Regions from separate parts of the Homo sapiens genome. Here all the other regions are linked to region 1. Evidence: fine-mapped expression QTL. A gene starts in region 1. Each other region holds a variant in brackets. All regions are shown on one strand. Distances are from middle to middle.

What was found. PIP is the estimated chance that this variant, and not a neighbour inherited with it, causes the effect.
Region 2: its variant is the best candidate, but not a certain one, in a credible set for the expression of MTUS1 in lung (TOPMed, PIP 0.80).
Region 3: its variant is the best candidate, but not a certain one, in a credible set for the expression of MTUS1 in skeletal muscle (GTEx, PIP 0.82).
Region 4: its variant is the best candidate, but not a certain one, in a credible set for the expression of MTUS1 in coronary artery (GTEx, PIP 0.72).

Annotation. Positions count from the first base shown.
Region 1 is chr8:17,798,376-17,803,755 of GRCh38, forward strand. MTUS1 (microtubule associated scaffold protein 1) reads right to left here and starts at 2,719. Exons shown (of 15, transcript NM_001363059.2): 1 at 2,686-2,719. MTUS1-DT (MTUS1 divergent transcript) reads left to right here and starts at 2,967. Exons shown (of 3, transcript NR_186403.1): 1 at 2,967-3,367. RefSeq lists silencers at 2,833-2,952, 3,033-3,092, 3,133-3,322.
Region 2 is chr8:17,638,744-17,644,429 of GRCh38, forward strand. It overlaps PDGFRL (platelet derived growth factor receptor like), which reads left to right. Exons shown (of 6, transcript NM_001372073.1): 6 at 3,870-4,401. The coding sequence ends at 4,058. It overlaps MTUS1 (microtubule associated scaffold protein 1), which reads right to left. Exons shown (of 15, transcript NM_001363059.2): 15 at 5,059-5,686. Among named protein-coding and RNA genes, the nearest start is that of MIR548V, 40 kb to the right of the region's middle. The variant C/G (reference allele first, on the strand shown) is at 2,225.
Region 3 is chr8:17,658,641-17,664,326 of GRCh38, forward strand. All of the region lies in intron 8 of MTUS1 (microtubule associated scaffold protein 1), which reads right to left. Among named protein-coding and RNA genes, the nearest start is that of MIR548V, 20 kb to the right of the region's middle. RefSeq lists enhancers at 742-1,242, 3,040-3,334. The variant G/C (reference allele first, on the strand shown) is at 3,103.
Region 4 is chr8:17,706,406-17,712,091 of GRCh38, forward strand. The region is part of intron 6 of MTUS1 (microtubule associated scaffold protein 1); the gene reads right to left. Among named protein-coding and RNA genes, the nearest start is that of MIR548V, 28 kb to the left of the region's middle. The variant A/G (reference allele first, on the strand shown) is at 3,249.

The DNA of each region.
Region 1 (5,380 bases):
AGGCTGGAGTGCACTGGAGTGATCTCGGCTCACTGCAACCTCCACCTCCCGGGTTCAAGCGCTTCTCCTGCCTCAGCGTCCCAAGTAGCTGAGATTACAGATCCATGCCAACACAATTGACTAATTTTTTGTATCTTTAGTAGAGACGGGGTTTCACCATGTTGCCCAGGCTGGTCTCGAACCCCTGACCTCCTGATCCGCCCGCCTTGGCTTCCCAAAGTGCTGGGATTAGAGGCGTGAGCCACCGCACCCGGCTGGAAAATTTTTTTTAAATCTTCTACCACAGTCACATATAGTTCTGAAGCTACGATTTAGAAGTGTTAAAAATTCTGTTTTGAGAAAGTCAACAGATTTATCAACATTAAAGAAATTTGTGTATGTCAAAACTACTGTAAATATATAAAGCAAAGATAAAATGGGAAAAGTATCTGCAATATGAATGGCAAAGATTTACTATCAATCCATAAAAGGCTCTTATGAATTAATGGAAAAATACTAATATCCCAGGAGAAAAATCTGGCACTACATCAAATTTCAAAATGGAAAACAACTAGATTTCTTTGGTGTTCAAATCATCTGTAATCAAAGAAATTGAAGTTTAAATATAGAGAAAGCACTGTTCACCTATAAACCTGGGAAGAATTTTTTTTTTTTCCCTTTAAGGATGATTCTACATGTTGACAAGAATACGGTAACACCAGTATTCTCACAGAGAGCTGGTGGGAACATAATTTGGTTAAACATTTTTTGGAAAGCAAATGGTCAATATGTATGAGGAGATCTTCCAACCATCAACTGTATTTCAAGGGCACTAAGGATATTAACCCTGCACATAAAGTTTTAAAAACGTATTTGTTGCAAAAGTATATTTAGTAAGTGGAAATAAATGAAAACCAGTTTGATACATCTATGTAATGTAATATTAAGTAGCCACTAAGATTTCTGAAGATTTCATGACATGGAAAATTTTTCATGATACATTAATCAGGAAAAAACCTCCACGCAATAGTATATTTAGATAAACTATATAACTATAAAAAATTTTTCTATATATTAACAAGTATTTTCTTAAATATTAACTGTGATTATCTTTGCTGAAATTGCTTAACTCACTTTTCTCAATCTACCTATTTTTATACAGCAAGCACGGATTACTTTTGAAATCAAAACAAACAGGGTTAACAGAACAGGGCTATTAAGTAACAGGCTTTTTAAATGCTTGAGTGTAATAACTGCAGGTTAGTTTCCAAAAAATATAAGATATTATCTAGAATCTTATAATCCTATTATACTCCAAAATGTAACCTTGACTTATTGACATAATTAAAAGGTCTTGTTCCAAGCATGATTTTCTACCAAGCAGATTTACCAAGAATTATTTTCTCTTCATAAACCTGATTTTAAAAAGAACAGGTGAAAAAACGTGGTGCAAGTTACATAAATAACTACATATTATTTTAAACTAAATTCCACTTCTAAGGTTTTTTAGCTTTGGTTTTAAGGATAAGCATGTAGTTCTAATCTTTTCTTTGTATAGCTTTCCTAATGGAATATATTGCCTATGAAAAAAAAAAAATCTGTAACAGCACTTTCTACACTGTAAAGCACTGTACTAACAGGACATCACCATTTTAAGTTGTGTATCATTTCCTGCCCTAACCATCCCTGAAAAAGCAAACTGTCTACAGAATTGCAATTCCGTTTATGCAATTCCTTTTAAAGTTGTCCATGCACTGTTATCTTGTATATACCCTCCTTAAAGAGGTCACTGGTTCCCAGGAAGCAATGACTCTCTTTTTTAATCCCCTCCCTCCTGCATTGCCTCCCTTCCTCCTGAAATTCACTGGTAACACCCCTACTCCCACCCTCCAGCCCCAGCGCTGTGATTTAGTGATGATTGACTTTCGATCACCTGCACCTGGCAAAACTTGAAAGCTTCCACGCACCGTTTTGCCTAAGACTTTGGTTTCATTGAAACAAACAAAACACACTGGATTTCCTTTCTTAGAACACTGACTACTTCAAACAAACAGTATTTAACAGAGTATGTGTAACTACGCAGGCTAAATGAATTAACCTCTTCCTTCCTAGTCCCAAATTACTCCAAGTCAAAAATCAACAAACAACTTGGTAGAAAGGAGTACGTCTTCAAAAAAGAACAAAAACGTTCCTCAGTGAACACCTAAGTCCACTAAGCACTATAGAGTAGTCAATAAGGTCACCTTAATTAAGATGAGATTTTTCTAGAGCGTGAAAAAGTGCAAACAAGCTGCAGAAAGTAGCGAGGCGCCACGAGGGGTCTTTGGGACCTGCAGCAACCCTATTCCACCCGCTTTCTCGGCCCCGCTTGCTTCTGCTGAGAAGGGGCCCTGCGAGAAGGCTGGGACCGCCGGGCCCGGGTGGGCGGCGTAAGGAGTCCACAGTCAAGCCCCTCGGTCACTTTCAAGGTGACAGCGACGAGATCCGCATCCGTCCCTTCCGCAGGCTCTGCGCTGGCCCACGTGAGACCCGCCTCCGCTCCGCCGGCGCTGCCGCCCCCTTTAGCCCTCAGCTTCGGCCCCCAGGCCCCTGGAACGCCCCCTCCCCTCCCCGAGGACCGGTCCCGTCACCCTGGGCGGCGCGCTCGCCTGTCCCCTCCCCACCCCGGCCGCCGGGCAGCGGGAACAGATTCCAGCGCGCACTTACCCGCAGCTCCTTCAAGCGCTCCGGGAGCAAAGACGCAGAGGCGGGGAGGGCTGGCGCCCTTTGCACCACTGGCGGGGTCGCCGAGAACCCGCCCCGGAGGTCTCGGGGGCGGCGTCTGCACCTGGGGGCGCGCGGCGCGGCACCACCCCACGCCTGCGGCGGCTACCAGGCGGGACCCGGAGCCCCGGCCTCCCCGCCTCCCCGCCTCCGGGGCCGCCAGGGGGTGGAGCAGGGCGGGGAGTTCGGGAAACTTGTAAATAGCCGAACTCGGGCCTCCCGCCCCAACCCGGGGCGGCTCCTTCCGAAGGCTCCACTCCAGCGGCTCGCTGCGGGAGACCAAGGCCAGCCGCCGTCCCAGGGGACGGCCCTCGGGGAACCTGAATGACGTGCGAGGCCGTACCTCGGGGCGCTGGACTCCGCTCGGGCGCTCCCGCTCTCCGCTCCCGCTCTCGGGTCCCAATCCCGACGCTCCGCGCGCTCCCGGACTAAGTGCGGACGCGCCCCACGCCCCCCGGCGCCAGCCCGGGACAGCGCTGCACCTGTTGCCACGTGCGACGCGGCGCTCAGCGGCTGCCACTGCCGCCGGCGCACCTGGCTGCACCGCGCGTCCCGGGACCACGCTCGTCCCCGCAGGAGCCCGGGGCTCCGCCGCACCCAGCGCTAGGGCCCAGGCCGGGCCGCGGTAGGTGGGGGATCTGACTCCTGCTTGCCTCTGGCCACCTGCAGGCCGAGGGGCCTCGCACCGCGGGGCGTATAGAAGGTGGGAAGGTTGCAGAATTATCAGGGCGGAAGCTTGCAAGGAAGGAGTCGTGATTGTCTCTTAGAAGGGCTGATTCGCAGTCTGTATTATCTTCATGCTTCTAGCAAGTTTACTAGCAAGTGTGTATTAAAGGTTAAAGAAAGTAGCTTTCCAGCTATTAGAGCTTGAGATACAACGTGGAAAGGAGTCTAGAACCCCAGGGAGATAAACTAGGCTCGACCTACTTTTCTCTAAACACAAACACAGTCCTTGCTGTTTGCTAAACTGAGCAAATTTCATCGACAGCTGTCTTCTAGGTCCGTAAAATATTTTCTTCTATAAAGCATATTTTTAATAGAAAACTTGTCCGAAGATGCTATTCTGCCTGTGAGAGATGTCACATTGCTGAACCGTGAAATGTCAGACAACCTGAGAACAAAATTTTAATATTTCCTTTTTAATTACCTGGATTGTGGTTTGCTAAAAGCTTTTAAAGAGAAGTGAACTTTTTTGGAGAATAGACGTAAGGACTCTGTATTTCACAGTTTTCTATACCATGAATATTAGAATAACTGACAGATGTCTTGCCATTGATAGTTGTAAAGACTTTTCATATGTACAATGATCCATTATTTCCTGACTACAAAACCCAGGGGTATATAGGTCAGATTATCTCCATTATTCAAATGAGGAATTGAAGCTCAGAAAGGTCAAGTGACTAGCGCAAGGTCACACAGCCAGTGAGGGCAAGTGCAAACCCAGCCAGCCTAACTCCTAATCTTCTCTTTTAATTCCATTACATAATGACACCTCTCATTTGCTTCAGAAATCCCTGTTGTAAAGATAGATGCAACTAGCATGATCCGTGTTGTTAGGAAAGGCATGTGATTAATTTTAAATAGATATAGTATTTAACACCACCAGATGAGTCTCCCTCTGAAAAAGCACACAAAAACAAAACAAAACGCTGACATAGTTTCCGCAAGTCACGAGGCAATTATGCTAATTAGCAACAAGCCTCCATCCCTAAGCAGAATAGTTCTTGTGTGAAACATATCATTTAATCTTTATAACCCTGATGTGACCTAGATGATTTGGTCTAAACCCCACAATCCTATTGTGTGGCTTAGTTATATCTATAAATATAGAACCTGTTTTACTTCATTTTTGTGTCAGGTGGTTTGAAGGGGGGAAACATACAATGCTCTGCTAAGTAATTAGAGCTACTTACGCAGGCATTGGGGAATCTGAAACTTAGCTTCTAATTGTCTCCACATAAAAACAGAAGTTAACTTCTAGGGACATCTTCAGGGACTCCTCAAGGCAAATATTCATGAAATGGGGCCTATTGGCTTTTCTTTTCATCTTGGTTCTGGGCATGTTGCCATGTTCCTGATCTCTGAACTCTGATGCTGACCTGCTACAGACTCCAGGAGCAATATTAAGGATAAAATAATAACTCACATAACTTTGTGGCTCTTTATTCTAAAAAAAAAAAAAAAAGTTGGCTCAATTTTTTTTCCTCCATAAGAAAATGCAAATTGCAACTGTATTGAGAAACCATTTTTTCACTTATCAGATTGTCAAAGATTAGAAAGTTTGATAATCACAGTGTTGGTAAAAGTGTAGACTAGCAGTCACAATGAAAATGTAAATGTAAATTATAATGACCTCCCTAGGGGGAAGGTCAGGATACCTAACAATATTGCAACTATACGTATAAGAGTTTATCTTGGCCCTGCGTGGTGGCACGGTGACTCATGCCTGCAATCCCAGCACTTGGGGAGGCCGAGGCGGGCAGATCACCTGAGGTCAGGAGTTGGAGACCAGCCTGGCCAACATGGTGAAACCCTGTCTCAACTAAAAATACAAAAATTAGCCAGACATGATAGCAGGCGCCTGTAATCCCAGCTACTTGGGAGGCTGAGGCAGGAGAATCCCTTGAACCTGGAAAGC
Region 2 (5,686 bases), 160 kb before region 1:
TATATATATATATATATATATATATATATATATATATATATATAATTGTGATATTTTCCTGTTGGGCAAGTCCTTTTATCATTACATAATGTCCGTCTTTCTCTTTTTTAACTGCTGTTTCTTTAACGTTTGTTCTGTCTGATATAAGAACAGCTACTCCTCTATAAGACAGGCCTGCACCTGTAATCCCAGCTACTAAGGAGGCTGAGGCACAAGAATCACTTGAACCTGGGAGGTGGAGGTTGCATTGAGCCAAGATTGAGCCATTGCACTCCAGTCTGGCCGACAGAGTGAGACTCTGTCTCAAACAAAACAAAACAAACAAAAAGAATAGCTACTCCTGCTCACTTTGGTGTCCCTTTGCATGGAATATCTTTTCCCAGCCCTTTACCATAAGTTTATGTTAGTCCTATTTGTTAGGTGAGTCTCTTCAAAACAGCAGATACTTGGTTGGTGACTTCTTACCCATTCTGCCATTCTGAATCTTTTAAATGGAGCATTTAGGCCATTTACATTCAACATTAGTATTCAGATGTGAGGTACTATTCTATTCATCTTGCTATTTGTTGCCCGAATACCTTGGTTTTTATTTATTTATTTATTTATTGTGTTTTTGTTTTATAGGTCCTATGAGATTTATGCTTTAAGAAGGTTCTATTTTGGTGTATTTCAAGGATTTGTTTCAATATTTAGTGCTCCTTTTAGCATTTCTTACAGTGCTGGGTTTGTAGTGGCGAATTTTCTCAGCATTTGTTTGTCTGAAAAAGACTGTATCTCTCCTTCATTTATGAAGCTTAGTTTTGCTGTACACAAAATTCTTAGATGATGATTCTTTTGTTTAAGGAGGCTGAAGGTAGGGCCTCAATTTCTTCTAGCTTGTAGGGTTTCTGCTGAGGAATCTGCTGTTAATCTGACATGTTTTCCTTTATAAGTTATCTGGTGCTTTTGCCTCACAGCTCTTAAGATTCTTTCCTTCATCTTCGCTTTAGATAACCTGATGACTCTGTGCCTAGGTGACGATCTTTTTGCAATGAATTTCTCAGGTGTTCTTTGAGCTTCTTGTATTCAGATGTGTAGCTCTCTAGCAAGGCCAGGGAAGTTTTCTTTGATTACTCCCTCAAATATGTCTTTCAAACTTTTAGATTTCTCCTCTTCCTCAGGAACACCAATTATTCTTAGGTTTGTTTGTTTAATATAATCCCAAACATCTTGGAGGCTTTGTTCATTCTTTTAAATTCTTTTTTGTTTGTCTTTGTTCGATTGGGTTAATCCAAAAATCTGATGTTCGAGTTCTGAAGTTCTTTCTTCTGGTTGTTCAGTTCTATTGCTAAGACTTTCCAATGTATTTTGCATTTCTCTAAGTGTGTTCTTCATTTCCAGAAATTATGATTGTTTTCTATTTTTGCTATCTATTTCACTGAAGATTTTTCCCTTCATATCCTGTATCTTTTTTGATTTAATTAAGTTGGAGTTCACCTTTCTCTGATGCCTCCTTGAGTAGCTTAATAACTGACCTTCTGAATTCTTTTTCTGGCAATTCAGGGATTTCTTTTTGGATTGGATAAATTGCTGGTGAGCTAGTGTGATCTTCTGGGGTGTTAAAGAAACTTGTTTTGAAATACTACCAGAATTGTTTTACTGGTTCCTTCTTATTTGGGTAGACTATGGTAGAGGGAAGATCTGGGGCTCAAGGGCTGCTCTTCATATTCTTTTGTCCCATGGGGTGCTCTCTTGATACAGTGCTCTCCCCCTTCCCCTATGTGTGTGGCTTCCTGAGAGCCAAACTGCAGTGATTGTTATTTCTCTTCTGTATCTAGCCACCCAGCAGAGTTACTGGGCTCTGGGCTGGTACTTAGTGGTGCCTGTACAGAGTCCTTTGATGTCTCAGGTCTCTCAGCCATGGATGCCAGCAGCTGCTCTAATGGAGGTGGCAGGGGAGTGAAATGGATGAACTCTGTGAGGGTCCTTAGTTGTAGTTTCGTTTATTGCACTAGTTTTGTGTTGGTCTTCTGCCAGGAGGTGGCACTTTAAAGACAGCATTAGCTGCAGTAGTATAGGGAGGATCAGGTGGTGGGCAGGACCCTAGAGCTCCCAAGAGATTATGTCCTTTGTCTTCGGCTACCAGGGTGGGTAGAAAAAGACCATTAGTTGGGGGTGGGCTAGGCGTGTCTGAGCTCAGACACTCTCCTTGGGCGGGTCTTGCTATGGCTGCTGTTGGGACTGG[C/G]GGTGTGGTTCTCAGGCCAATGGGGTTATGTTCCTCAGGGGATTATGGCTGCTCTGCTGTGTCATGCAGGTCACCAGGGAAGTGGGGGAAAGCCAGCAGTTACAGGCCTCACCCAGCTCCCACGTAGCCCAAAGGGCCGGTCTCACTCCCTCTGTCCCTGCCAACAGCACCGAGTTTGTTTCTAGGCAGTGGATGAGCAGGGTTGAGAACTTGTCCCAGGCTACCAGCCTCTTGGATAAGAAAGCAAACAGGGTTTTCAGATTTCACATCTCCTACCTGCCACGGTTTCTGTGCTGTGTCTGCACTCCTGCTTCACCCCCTCACCCGAGTTCTGTCCAGGAAACTGTGTTTGGTCAAAATTGTTACAAAGTTCAGCTAGAAGTTTCCTTCTCCCTGTGGTCTTTTCCCAGTTTCTCTGGTAGCCCTCTCCAGGGATCTCTGTGAGACAAAGTCAGAAATGGCTTCCTTGGGGACTGAGAGAGCCCATAGGGCTCTTTCTGCTGCTCCTTTCTATTCCTGTGTTTCACTTGGCTAGAGTGTTCTCTATACAAGCTGTGCCCATGGCAAGCTGCTGTGAGCAGACATCCACCAAGTGGACATAGACCACGCCAAAAAGGTGCTGTGAGGCCAGAGATAATTTTAAAGTAGACTTCTCATAAAAGCAATTGCAGCGTATTTAGCCCTTGTGCATGTTCTGCTTGCTAAAATAACAGCTCTGCTCCCAGCACGGAATAATCCCTTTGTTGCCAGAAGAGATTTGGCCTCCACAAGACACATTAAGTAGCTGACATCCTTCTGGCCTATGGGCTGTGATTGGTAGAAAATAACTGTCTCTGGGGAATAGTGTTTTCCGGCATCCTGGTACCAGGCACTTGATTATCAAACGTGTTGGTCATACTTACAGGACATTGATGATTTTCAATAGAGGTCCCCGCCACATTGCTATTTGGTATTTTATGAGAAAAGGTATTCACTTAGTGATATATTAGTTCTGTTACATGAATTCAGAAAATACTATGTTCTTATCACTGGAGTTGGGTGGACATCTCAAAAGTGACCATCGCACTTTGTAGAAATAGGGGTCCTGTCATGTAGTACATTATCTTACCCATCCTTGGTACAACTTTTCTCCCACTAGAGTCCTAAGGCACACTGGCCTAATCATACTTCTCCCTCTCTCAAATCTGAGCAATTGGGAGCTCTTAGTCATTTATACAGTGGGTGCTTTTTCAGGCTACTGACTTTCAGTTCTGTAGGTAAGAACCACTTAGCTAGGAAAAGAAAGTGGGCAATGTGAAGAACGGGGCCAGTGGAAAATTTTGTCCCTGCTTATGCTTAATACCAGTTCCACTTCCTTGGAGTTCTAAAAGCATACATTTTAGATTAAGTAAAACCTTACAGAAGAAAAGGGCAGAAAGACAGTGCCAAACAACGTAATGAAATTCAAGGGCTGTTTGGAAAAAATGCAACCTAAAATGATTCCAGTGTAGAAGCTTCCACAGCTTATGAGCTACGCATACTAAACAGTCTTTTATAAGCATGTGCTTTGCTCTCTGAAAGGAACGCTCAACAGTGTTGGGTGAGTGGGAGCTCTTTATAGCAGCTTGTCCCTCTTGCTTCAGTCTTTGTGGGTGTCGTTAAACAGGATGAAAGGCCTGTGACGATCCAAGACACTTGGAGGTTGATCCACAGAGGACTGGGACACACCACGAGAATCTCCCAGAGTGTCATTACAGTGGAAGACTTTGAGACGATTGATGCAGGATATTACATTTGCACTGCTCAGAATCTTCAAGGACAGACCACAGTAGCTACCACTGTTGAGTTTTCCTGACTTGGAAAAGGAAATGTAATGAACTTATGGAAAGCCCATTTGTGTACACAGTCAGCTTTGGGGTTCCTTTTATTAGTGCTTTGCCAGAGGCTGATGTCAAGCACCACACCCCAACCCCAGCGTCTCGTGAGTCCGACCCAGACATCCAAACTAAAAGGAAGTCATCCAGTCTATTCACAGAAGTGTTAACTTTTCTAACAGAAAGCATGATTTTGATTGCTTACCTACATACGTGTTCCTAGTTTTTATACATGTGTAAACAATTTTATATAATCAATCATTTCTATTAAATGAGCACGTTTTTGTAAAAAATAAAAAGTGGGATAAGTGTTTTTTAAGTTAAGTTGACTTAAAATACATCCAGAAAGACTTGGTGGTGGTGATACGTGGGTCAATACCAAGTATTCTCTTTTATATCACCGCAATATATTAGAATTTTAAAATGTACTAGATACAGTTCAACTACTTACCCACAAGCAACAACTCCAGACTCAAATGCTTAGAAATGTCATTTTGTCTTAGTAGCAACTTTAACAAATGTGAGTTAATTTATGAAGGTACTGAAAAAATTCAAGGACACTTCATTTTTTTAAACTGCTGCACTCAAAGGTGTAATTGTAGATTAGTCTATTCAATAACTAGAACAAGTTTTTAGAAGTTTAGCTTTCAATATGAAATAGATGCATAGATTAAGAACATTCAACTTTGTTTAGACATTTTTTACGATATTCAAAAATATTTACCAAGTTTGTCCAATTTTCTTATACAGCAGAAATTGTTACAGCCAGCCAAAATTTATTTGTCAAACATAGATAGCTTTGAATTTAGAGAAGAAGAGCTTACCTCTCACTCTAGCTCTGTGAGCCCATGACCAACTCTGCGGTTGCAGTGGAAATTCCTGGGAAATATAAACTAAGAGGAGATACGACCTTTACTGTGCTGTCACAGGGCTGTAAAAATGAAGAATTTGAAGAATGAAGTAGGTCAGAGGATGCAATTCTTGAGTATTCCAGCATTATTTATTTGATCAGAGTAAAATACACTTCCCATCACTACAAACTGAGCACAACTACAGTTGTCTACACATTCATATTTTTGACGTGCCAACATTTTGCATTCTACATGAAACATTTGGTTTAAACAAAATCTTAAGAATTCTCTATTTTGTTTCCCATCTTCCCTCCTGTTCTCTCCCATCCTCCAAAGATGTTTTATATTAACTGCTATGAGATTTATTTGCCGGTCACGTAATACGGAGGACAGCAGGGAACAACACAAGATTTACCATGCCTAGGGGATGAATGGCAAACCCAACTTTGGCTAATGTCATTGAGAACAACTTGGAAGCGTGAGCAGAGATATCTCATGAAGTGGCAGTGAACCTACATTTCCATTTATCAGAAGCAAACATGGAAGGTTACATACATGATGAAGTATTGGAAGTTAAAGACTTAAGACACAAAATCACTAATTTAAAAGAACATGCAACATGAGTATCAACTTGCTATGTAGTGTACATGTAAATGACCCAAATATTCACCTCTAGCATCCTGAATCTCTTCTTACTACAGCTGTTATTTGTACAGCCACTGAATGTAGATTAGTAAATACTGACATCACAATGTTGA
Region 3 (5,686 bases), 140 kb before region 1:
TCTTTGGAAAGGAATAACATATCAGGAGTTGAAGGAAGAAGATTATTTTAGGGCACAGAAAAGGACAATTTAGATCAATAATTATTTGGCCTAAGGAACGTGAAAATGGCAGGTTCTTAGGAAGATTTCCTACAATGGTGTCAACTTGTTATCTCAGGAACCTGCCATGTGGTGGTAGAAATACCCAAGTCACTTGCCCCCAGTCAGTATTCTTTCAGAGGAAAAGGAGGCCACATTGAAATAATGGCAGGAATAGTGTCTGCCAAAGAGAACCCTTAAAAATTAAATCAATCTACAAATGTTTATTGAAGGGCAAAGATTTAACATTAAAAAAAAATCCCCAAAACAAAAACTATTTCTCGTTGCCTGGCACAGAATGGGGCTCTTTATCTTGTTTAACCCTCACAGAGGACCCTCCTAAACATATAGATAAGGAAACCGCCACAGAGAGGCTAAATCATCTGCCCAGGGGCACAGAGCTGGCAAGCGTGAGAGGATGGGTTTCGGTGAGCAGTCTGAATTCTGATTCTGCCTGCACCCAAAGCCCGTGCCCCTTCTTTTCTACCAAGCTGTTTCTTGTGCTGGGGCTGGCAAGGCGCATGATGGGGCCTCTACTGGAAGAGACAACAGACAGAGGAGAAGTGGCAGGACCAGGCCAGACCTTGGGGCCCAGGGAGTGGCACTCAGGATAGTTTACGTCCAGTCAGGGTGGACCAAAGGTTTGGTCAGATTTTTAAAACAATTAAAAAATAAATAAATAAAAACTGTGATGAGGGCTGGGCACAGTGGCTCACGCCTGTAATCCCAGCACTTTGGAAGGCCGAAGCGTGCAGATCATGAGGTCAAAATATCCAGACCATCCTGGCCAACATGGTGAAACCCCATCTCTACTAAAAATACAAAATTAGCTGGGCGTGGTGGTGTGTGCCTGTAGTCCCAGCTACTCAGCAGGCTGAGTGAGGCAGGAGAATCGCTTGAACCCGGGAGGCAGAGGTTACAGTGAGCCAAGATCGCACTACCGCACTCCAGCCTGGCGACAGGGAAAGACTTCATCTCAAAAACAAAAACAAAAAAACTGTGATGAAGCAGATACCAAATTAACCATTTTAATTATTTTTAGGTGTATGATTCAGTGGCATTGAATACACTTACATCGTTGTGTAAGCTTTGTCATCATCCATTCTCCAGAACGTTTCCCCCCAACCTGAAACTTCGTACCAATTAAACAGTAACAACCCATCCCCTCCCCTTCCCCAAGGCCCTGGCAGCGACCATTTTACTTTCTTTCTCTATGAATCTGACCATTCAGTACCTCATATACCTGGACTCAAATAGTACTTGTCCTGTTGTGACTGTTTATTTCATTTAGCGTATGTCCTCAAGGCTCATCCAAGCTGTGGGATGTGTCACAATTTCCTTCCTTTTGAAGGCTCAATATTATTCCATTGTTGGCCGGGTGCAGTGGCTCACGCCTGTAATCCCAGCATTTTGGGAGGCCAAGGCAAGCAGATCGCTTGAGTTCAGGAGTTCGAGACCAGCCTGGCCAACATGGTGAAACCCCATCTCTAGTAAAAATACAAAAATTAGCGGGGCATGATGGCGCACGTCTGTAGTCCCAGCTACTCGGGAGGCTGAGGCAGGAGAATCGCTTGAACCCAAGCAGTGCAGGTTGCAGTGAGCCAAGATAACGCCACTGCACTCCAGCCTGGGTGACAGAGCAAGACTCCGTGTCAAATAATAATAATGATAATATTCCATTGCACGTACAGATGACATTTGTGTATCCACTTACCATCCACGGACACTTGGGTTGCCTCCACCTTTGGCTACTGTGAATAATGCTGCTATGAACACCGGGGGACAAATACATGCCCGAGTCCCTGCTTTCAATTCTTTGGTGTATATACCCAGAAGGAATTGCTGACTCATATGGCAATTCTATTATTAATTATTTGAAGGACTATGGTACTCTTTTCCATAGTGGTTGAACCATTCTACATTCCCATCAGCAGTACTACACACAAGGGTTCCAATTTCTCCACATGCTCACCAGAACCTATTTGATTTTTTCAAATATATGTAACAGCCATCCTAATGAGTACATCACTGTGGTTATGATTTGGTCAGTAGATTTTCAAATTAAGCCATATGATAGAAATAAAATTGAGGCATCAAGGATGAAAATCCTATCCCAGCATGAGCAATGATGGGCGACAGAACGGTGAGCCTTGGTGATTAAGAAACTCACAAAGCAGAGAAGATAGAACCCAAAAAGACAGACGGAGGCCAGATTACAGGGGCCATCGCACGCAACTCAAGCCTTTGGGACTGAATATTAAAAGTTTCTTTTCTCCTTTAAAAGAATTTAGTGAAAGATAGTGATGGTCTTGACTGCTGGAGAACATTCTCTGCACATTCACTTTTCCTTCTATTACACTAGTAACCACAGAAGAAAAAATGACTCAAGAAGTCCAATGTTAGTCAAACGAGTAAACACTGCATTAGCTTCTGCCAAGTAACTTTCCGACTCTGAAGGCTCCTCGTGTGAATCTCGTATTAGAACTTTCTATGAAAACCTACAACAGAAACATACTTTGCAAGCCGTTGGTGAAGGTATCAAATAGCTTCTAGTCAGAGAAATTCTAGTTTCACGCAGGCTTTTCACTTGCTTCTCTTAAAATTTCCGGTATTTCCAAAGTTAAAAAATAAAAAAGCAGGAACAAGATCTGAACCCATCTGGAAGCTCATATCTGGGACAGAAACATCTAAGTGAACTCAGGGACTCAGCAATAAACAAGAGACTGCCTCCAAGCCCTGGGCTAGAAGAGCTTCGAAGCTGACGTTAATAGCAGACTACCCTGGCTGATTTTAACACATCTGTTTATGATAAAAATACTGTCGCTTTGAATATGTAATTGTGGCACATCAGCCTTTAAAACCAAATAGGATACACAGAAGTCCTTTCCTATTAGCCATGGGACAGGGCTGTTTCCCTCTATTCACCAAAAAAAAAAAAGGCAGCTCTGACGTTTTGATAAGTGAGGTGAAGAGAGGACACATGGGAAGAAACGGGAAAGAGAAAGGGAGAAAATGGGTCAGATG[G/C]GGGAACAGGAGGTTCACTGCTGTTATTGTAATAGTCCAAAGCAGCAGGCCCAGCCCCAGACAGTGACATCAGCCTGCAGCTGTGCACAGACCTTTGCTCTGTTTACTGGCCCGGTGTGCTGCTGGGGAACAGCTGGGCTGCAGTAATCGCTCACACTAATGGCTTTCGTTTGAAGGAAGTGGCCTGGGCTGCGAAGGAAACATTTATTTGGCATAAAGACTCATGAAGTATTTTTTAAAGGATGCACATGTAAACGCTGTATTAAAGGTTCTCAGAGTGCTCCTCGGCAGCTGTGACATAAACGTGTGTGTGTGGCGGTGGGGGGCGTGCATAACCCCGATTTTAGGCCATGGACTTTCCTGTGCACTGACTACAGCTTAGGAGAGATTTATGGTGCCACCTGTGTGTGCTCTCACTCCTATCCTCAGCCTAGTCTCTTCTTGCTCATTCTCCAGAATTCCACTCACTTTCAATTAATCAGACACCCCACAAAGCCAAAACCAAACATAAAATTGTTTCGAATTTGCAACAAGCAAGCATGGACATGCGAATGTTTGAAAGAAGGTATTAGACAAACACAAAGTCAAAGTAGTCTTTTTGTCCCTATTTTTTTTTTTTTTTTTTTTTTTTGAGATAGAGTCTCGCACTGTCACCTGGGCTAGAATGCAGTGGCACGATCTCGGCTCACTGCAACCTCCACCTCCCGGGTTCATGCGATTCTCTTGCCACAGCCTCCCGAGTAGCTGGGACTACAGGTGCACACCACCACACTTGGCTAATTTTTTGTTTTTTAGTAGAGATGGGGTTTCACTATGTGGGTAAGACTGGTCTCGAACTTCTGGCCTCATGATCCGCCCACCTCAGCATCCCAAAGTGCTGGAATTACAGGTGTGAGCCACTGTGCCTGGCCTCTGTTGTTTTAATCATTCCATTAGTCTATTTTTTAAAAAAGCACATATATGATTAGGAACACCAACAGACCACCATCTGTAGGAGAACTGCTGGGCAACTTTTGTATACATGTTTGTAAACCATGAAAGCTATCTCCAGCAATCTAGCTTAAAAGAGGAAATACAGTTCTCAGGATTTAAGGAAAAAGAGAAAAAAAAAAAAAGAAAAAGGAAGAAAGGAGGAAGGGAGGGAAGGGGAGGAAGGAGAAGAAGGAAAGGAAGGCAAACTCATGTACAAAAACATCTCTAAAATGTAAGGCCACATTGAGATTAGAAGTCAGTATTTTCACTCTGCAATGAATCACCCAAGAAGAATTCTAGGCCAGTGACCCTCCCTGACAGTTTAAATCATGGATATCTCAGCAAGAAAAAAAAATCGTAATCAGTGAAATGCTTTAAGTTTTGCTTTTCAAGTAATTATCAAGATGATATGTGGAAAATGCCCAGTGCCACAGTCAAACATAATCTCTGGAAAACAGAGCTGGAGTCCTCCCAGGTCCTTCATTACTTAGCCCTGCAGAACTGGAGTGGAGCCATTACTTAATTAGTCCTCATGGCTTTTTCTCAGAGGGGAAGGTCAGACTTTTATTATTTCCATCTCACAGAGACTCATTTCCCTTTGTTGATTGATAAATGTACTGTTTACAGAGAAAAGCATTACACAGCCATGGCCCGACATTGTTAATATTCTTTTGAAATGATACAGTGCTTTCCTAGTTTTTATATCTGAGTAGCATGGTTCATTATGAGACGACCAAAAATATTTTAATGCTCAAGAACATAAATAAATGTCCTAATAGGATAGAGCCAAAATTACTTGGGTTCAAATCTCAGTCACACCACTCAGCTGCTACATCACTTGAGCAAATTACTTAAACTTTCTAAGCCTACTTTTTGTTTTGTTTTGTTTTGTTTTTTTTGAGACAGAGGCTTCCTCTATCACCCAGGCTGGAGTGTAGTGGCACAATCTCAGCTCACTGCAACCTCGGCCTCCCAGGTTTAAGCGATTCTCCTGCCTCAGCCCCCTGAGTAGCTGGGATTACAGGCATGCACCACCATACCCGGCTAATTTTTGTATTTTTAGTGGAGACAGGGTTTCACTACGTTGGCCAGGCTGGTCTCGAACTCCTGACCTCAAATGATCTGCCTGCCTCGGCCTCCCAAAGTGCTGGGATTACAGGCATGAGCCACCGCACCTGGCCTAAGCCTACATTTCTTCATTTTTAAAGTGGAGATATTATTAGTCCCTTCTCTAGAAGATGAAATAGCACAGGTGAAGCACTCACCCCAGTGCCTGACCACAGTAACTTTGCAGATAAATTGTATAACTGTTACGGCTTGCAAGAGTCCATTGATTCCAGTGTGTTTGAAGACTCCTGGAAGACAGGCTTAGGGTTCCATAACAGAAATATAACAGTTAAAAAGCAGCATTGCTGGCCTCGTATTCAAATTTGATGCATATGAACACACAGACGTAGCTATTATGGTGGAGTGTACACTCACTTCAAGTCTTTCCCTTCCGCTACTATTGTTCTTGACATTATACGCAATAGAATTTTCCTAATTTGGAGGAGATTTTATGTAAATCAGAACTAAAATATAAAAAAGAAAAGTGCCAGGCAAATTTTCATAG
Region 4 (5,686 bases), 92 kb before region 1:
TCGTTCTCCTCCTGCTTTTCTACATTGTCTTATGAGATAATGTAATTTCTTTAATTGATAAAGGTCAAGCTAAAACAATGATGTAACATTTTAAACTATTATGTTAGTCAAAAAAATTTAAAAATAATATCCAATGTTGACCCAAGGTATGATGAAGCCAGGTGTCTTTTATGTCAACCACGGTATAAAATGATATGAAGCTTTTGGAAAACAATTTGGCTATTTGAGTGAAGTGACTGTAAATGGGTACATATTGTGATTTCCTGATACTACTTTTAATAATCTATCACAAGAAATTGAAAGTTGAAAGTGCTAATTGTATAGATGTTCATCATAGAATCATTTATGAATGTGATACAGAAGCACCCTAAATATTCAAAAGTAGTTAAATGTTACTGTATCTGCTAAATGTAAAAGTGATTACTATATGTTAAATGACAAAGCAGGATATACACTTATCTAAATTTCATTTAAAACGACAAATTTTAAAAAGCTGAAGGGTGATTTCTAAACTACATGCTAAACTTTTTGAAGTTTGGCAAACTGCTATAATTAAAAGTGATTATTTTACTAGAACTAAGGAATATGAAGTTGGTCAACTCAACTGTAATCTCCACCACTACTTACAGCTTTAAAATAAAAATATCTCAAAGCCATAGTACAACGATTAAAAATTTACACTCAGAGGAACATGTTTATGTGTGGAGGCAATGTCTTCTGTATCAGCTAAAATATGACTCATTTCCAGCAGAATATGAAAAAAGTCAAGGTGATTTTCAGTCACAGAATATCACAGTAGGGAGAAATCTAGAAATCCACCCTTTCAGTTACATAGAAAACTATTATCAAAGAGGTTCAATGATCCACCCAAAGTCACTGGCTTTTCAGCATCATTTTTCAGCATCAAAGTCGTCTTTCCAAAGCAAACACACTTTGTTGTGGTCCTCTGTCCACACAGTAACTTTTCCTCACTAGGCTCCTCATAATACCAGGTTAGTCTTAAGTCATGATAATAACTAACCATCGAGAAGAACCTGGGAAAGTCATGCTTATGGTTTCGGGAAAATACAGAGGCCTACCACACAATCTAGATTAAGCTGCAATGTTGACCCCTTAGAATACATTCTATATATACAGAGTCATCTATAGATTCAATGTAACAGAAATTATTAGAATTGGAATTATTAGATTACATTCCTAAAACCTCACCTGACTTCATTACAGAGATTGACAAGCTGATCCTAAAATTCATACAGAAAATCAAGGGACCCAGAATAGCCATAACTATCTTGAAAAAGAAAGACGTTGAATGACTCACATCCTGATTTCAAAACTTACTAATCAAGACAGTGTAGCACTGGCAAAGGTAACATATAAATGCAAAGAACACAATTTAGAAATCAGAAATAAACCCTCACATTCTTAACCAATTATTTTTAACAAAGGTGCCAAGGCATTTAAATGGGGGAAATACATGTCTTCAACACCTGGATGTCCATGTGCAAAAAAGAATTAGACCTTCTATCTCATACCATATAAAAATGTAACTCAAAATGAATCAGAAACCTAACTATAACAGCTAGAATAGCAAAAAAAACTTAAATGAAAACACAGGCTTAAATCTTCACAACCTTGGATTAGGCAACTGTTTCTGAGATACAATACCAAAAGCAGAAGCAACAAAAGAAAAAAAGTTGATAAAGTGGACCTTGTCAAAATTTAAAACGTTTATGTTTCCAAGGACATTATCAAGAAAGTGAAAACACACCCAAGAATTGGGAGAAAATATTTGCAAATGATAACTCTGACAAGGGTCTAATATCAGACTATACAAGAACTCCTACAATTCAACAATAAAAATGACCCAGTTTAAAACTGGCAAATGATTTGAATAGACACTTCTCCAAAGAAGATATACAAATGGCCAGTAAGCACACGAAATGACACTCAATGTCACTGGCTGTCAGAATGCAAATTGAAACAACAATGAGGTATCACTTCATACCCAGTAGGGATAGCTATAATAAAAAAGACAGACAAAGCCAAGTGTTGACAAGGCTGTGGAGAAACAGGATTCTTCATACACTCCTGGTGAGGATATAAAGTGGTCCAGCCACTTTGGAAAACAGCCTGGAGGTTTCTTAAACTGTTAAACACAGAGCTACCAATTGAGCCAGTTTTCTGATAATGGTTAACTAATTTTTAAACAAAGCCATTCCATAGAATATTAGCTATCTTTTTTCCCCAGATATTAGGATGTACCAGAAACTTAAAAGGAAATAAAAGCCTAAATGTGTACAGCAGAGTTTCTTCTGCATTTTTACCCTATAAAGGCTTTAGTAACCACATATATTCACACTCAGCATCCTGGGGATCTTTAGAACTTAGATCATTCTGCATGGCTGTCTTCCTAGCTTTAAGAGCCTACAAAAGGTTACGAATTCTGAGATAGCTGGGCGCAGTGACTCACGCCTGTAATCCCAGCACTTTCGGAGGCCGAGGCGGGCGGATCACGAGGTCAGAAGATCGAGACCATCCTGGCTAACACGGTGAAACCCCATCTCTAGTAAAAATACAAAAAATTAGCCGGGCATGGTGGCAGGCGTCTGTAGTCCCAGCTACGCGGGAGGCTAAGGCAGGAGAACGGCGTGAACCAGGGAGGCAGAGCTTGCAGTGAGCAGACATCGCGCCACTGCACTCCAGCCTGGGCGACAGAGCAAGACTCTGCCTCAAAAAAAAAAAAAGAAAAAGAATTCTGAGATAATTTCCCCACACTTCCCTGCTTATTACACTGAGGAAACTGAATACACCTGATGGGGCATCAAGGATATTTGTTATTCATGTTATTCATGATGTAATGTTATCCCACCCTGTTTTCTTTACACAACAGGCTCAGAAATTTATACCTCTTGCCCAGGTTTCCCTCACATGACAGCCTTCAATCCGGACCTCTCTTCTAGGACAAGACAACCCTCCTTCCTAGAACTCAGTGCATTTGTGATTCATGTCTATTTGAGCAGGTTTTTTATTTTATTTTTTTAACTATCCTATTAGCTCTCCAGAGACAAGGCCCCTGCTCATTCTTCGCTCAGGACTGCATCCTTAACACCTGACACTCACAATGTGTGAACAAACTGTAGTCAACATTCTGTAACATTACATGCATACCTGGGAGATATATATCACCCCATAAGACACATGACATAATAAGGCAAATCACAAAAATTGTCTGGTTTCTCAGTGCATAT[A/G]AAACTTATATTAACACTACACTATAGTCTAGTGTGCAACAGCATTATGTCTAAAAAAATATATACCTTAATTTGCCAGGCGTGGTGGCTCACACCTGTAATCCCATCAGTTTGGGAGGCCGAGGCAGGTGGATCATGAAGTCAGGAGATGGAGACCATCTGGCTAACACGGTGAAACCCCGTCTCTACTAAAAATACAAAAAATTAGCCGGGCATGGTGGCGAGCACCTGTAGTCCCAGCTACTCGGGAGGCTGAGGCAGGAGAATGGCGTGAACCCGGGAGGCAGAGCTTGCAGCGAGCAGAGATCATGCCACTGCACTCCAGCCTGGGCGACAGAGCAAGACTCTGTCTCAAAAAAAAAAAACACCTTAATTTAAAAATATTTCATTGCTAAAAAATGCTAAAGATCATCTGAGCCTTCAGTGAGCAGGAATTATTTTGCTGGTGGAACATCTTGCCTCAATGTTGGTGGCTGCTGACTGACTGATTAGGGTAGTGGTTGCTGAAGGTTTGGGTGGCTGTGGCAATTTAAAGTAAGACAGCAATGAAGTTTGCGACATCAATTGACTCTTTCATGAAAGATTTCTTTGTAGCACGTGATGCTGTTTCATAGCATTTTACCCACAGCAGAGAGTCTTTCAAAATTGGAGTCAATCCTCTCAAACCCTGCCACTGCTTTAAGTTTATGGAATATTCGGACTCCTTTGTCATTTCAACAGTGTTCACATCATCTTTACCAGGAGTAGATTCCATCTCAAGAAGATACTTTATTTGCTTATTCATAAGAAGCAACTCCTCATCTGCTCAAATTTTACCAGAGATCAACAGCAATGCAGTCACACCTTAGGCTTCACTTCTCATTCTAGTTCTCATCCTATTTCTACCACATCTGCAGTGACTTCCTCCACTGAAGCACTGAACCCCTCAAAGTCATCCATGACGGTTAGGTCAGCTTCTTCCAAACTCCTATTCACGTTGGTGCTCTGACCTCCTCCCATGAATCACGAATGTTCTTAATGGCATCTAGAAGAGCAAACCCTTTTCAGAAGGTTTTCAACTGACTTTGCCCCGTTCCATCAGAGGAATCAGTATCTAGGGCAGCTACAGTCTTACACAATGTACTTCTTAAATAGTAAGACCTGAAAGTCAAAATTACTCCTTGATCCATGGGCTGCAAAGTGGCTGCTATGTTAGCAGGTGTGAAAACATCCATCTTCCTGTACTATACTCTTGTACTATATATTACTATGTAATACACTATACTATACTCCATCAGAGTTCTTGGGTGACCAGGTGCACTGTCAGTCGGCAGTAGTATTTTGAAAGACATCTCTTGAGTTGTAGGTCTTAACAATGGGCTTAATATTCAGCAAACCATACTGTAAACAAATACGCTGTCATCCAGGCTTTGTTGTTTCATTTATAGAGCACAGGCAGAGTAGATTTAACGTAATTCTTAAGGGCCCTAGAATTTTCAGAATGGTAAGTGAACGTCAGCTTCAACTTAAAATTACCAGAAGTATTAGCTTCTAATAAGACAGCTTGTCATCTGAAGCCAGGCACTGACTTCTCCTGTTTACCTGTGCAAGTCCTAAACAGCATCTTCTTTCAATATGAGGCTGTTTCACCTACACTGAATGTCTGTTGTTTTGTGTAGCCACCTTTATCAAATGATCCCAGCTAGATCTTCTGGATGACTCGCTGTAGCTTCTACATCAGCACTTGCTGCTTCGCCCTGTACTTTCATGTTATGAAGAGTTACCTTAAACCTCATGAACCAACCTCTGCTAGCTTCCAGCTTTTTTTTTTCTGCAGCTCCCTCACCTCTCTCAGCCTTCATACAATTAAAGAGAGTTAGGGTCTCACTCTGGATTAGGCTTTGGCCGAAGTGAAAGTTGCAGCTGGCTTAATCTTCTGGTCAGACCACTCAGACTTTCTCTCTGCCGGGAGTCTGTTTTGCTTTCTTATTTGAGTGTTCACTAGAGGAGCACTTTTAATTTTCTTCAAGAACTTTTCCTTTCCATTTACAACTTGGCTAACTGCTTGGCACAAGAGACCTGGCTTCTGAATTATCCTGGCTTTCAATGTGCCCTCCTCATTAAACTCAATCATTTCTATCTTTTGATTTAAAGTGAGAGACATGCAACTTTTCTTTCACTTGAATATTCAGAGGTCATTATAGGGCTATTAATTGGTTACTTTCAATATTATTGTGTCTCAGGGAATAAGGAAGACCAAGAAAAGGGAGAGAGATGGAAGAGGGACCAGTCAGTGGAGCACTTGAAATGCAAACGTATCAGCTGTGTTCACTGTCTTAGATGAGCATGGTCCATGGTGTCCCAAAACAATCACAACAGTAACATGGAAGATCACTGATCGCAGATCACCGTAAAAGATATAATAATAATGAAAAAGCTTGAAATAGTGTGAGAATTAC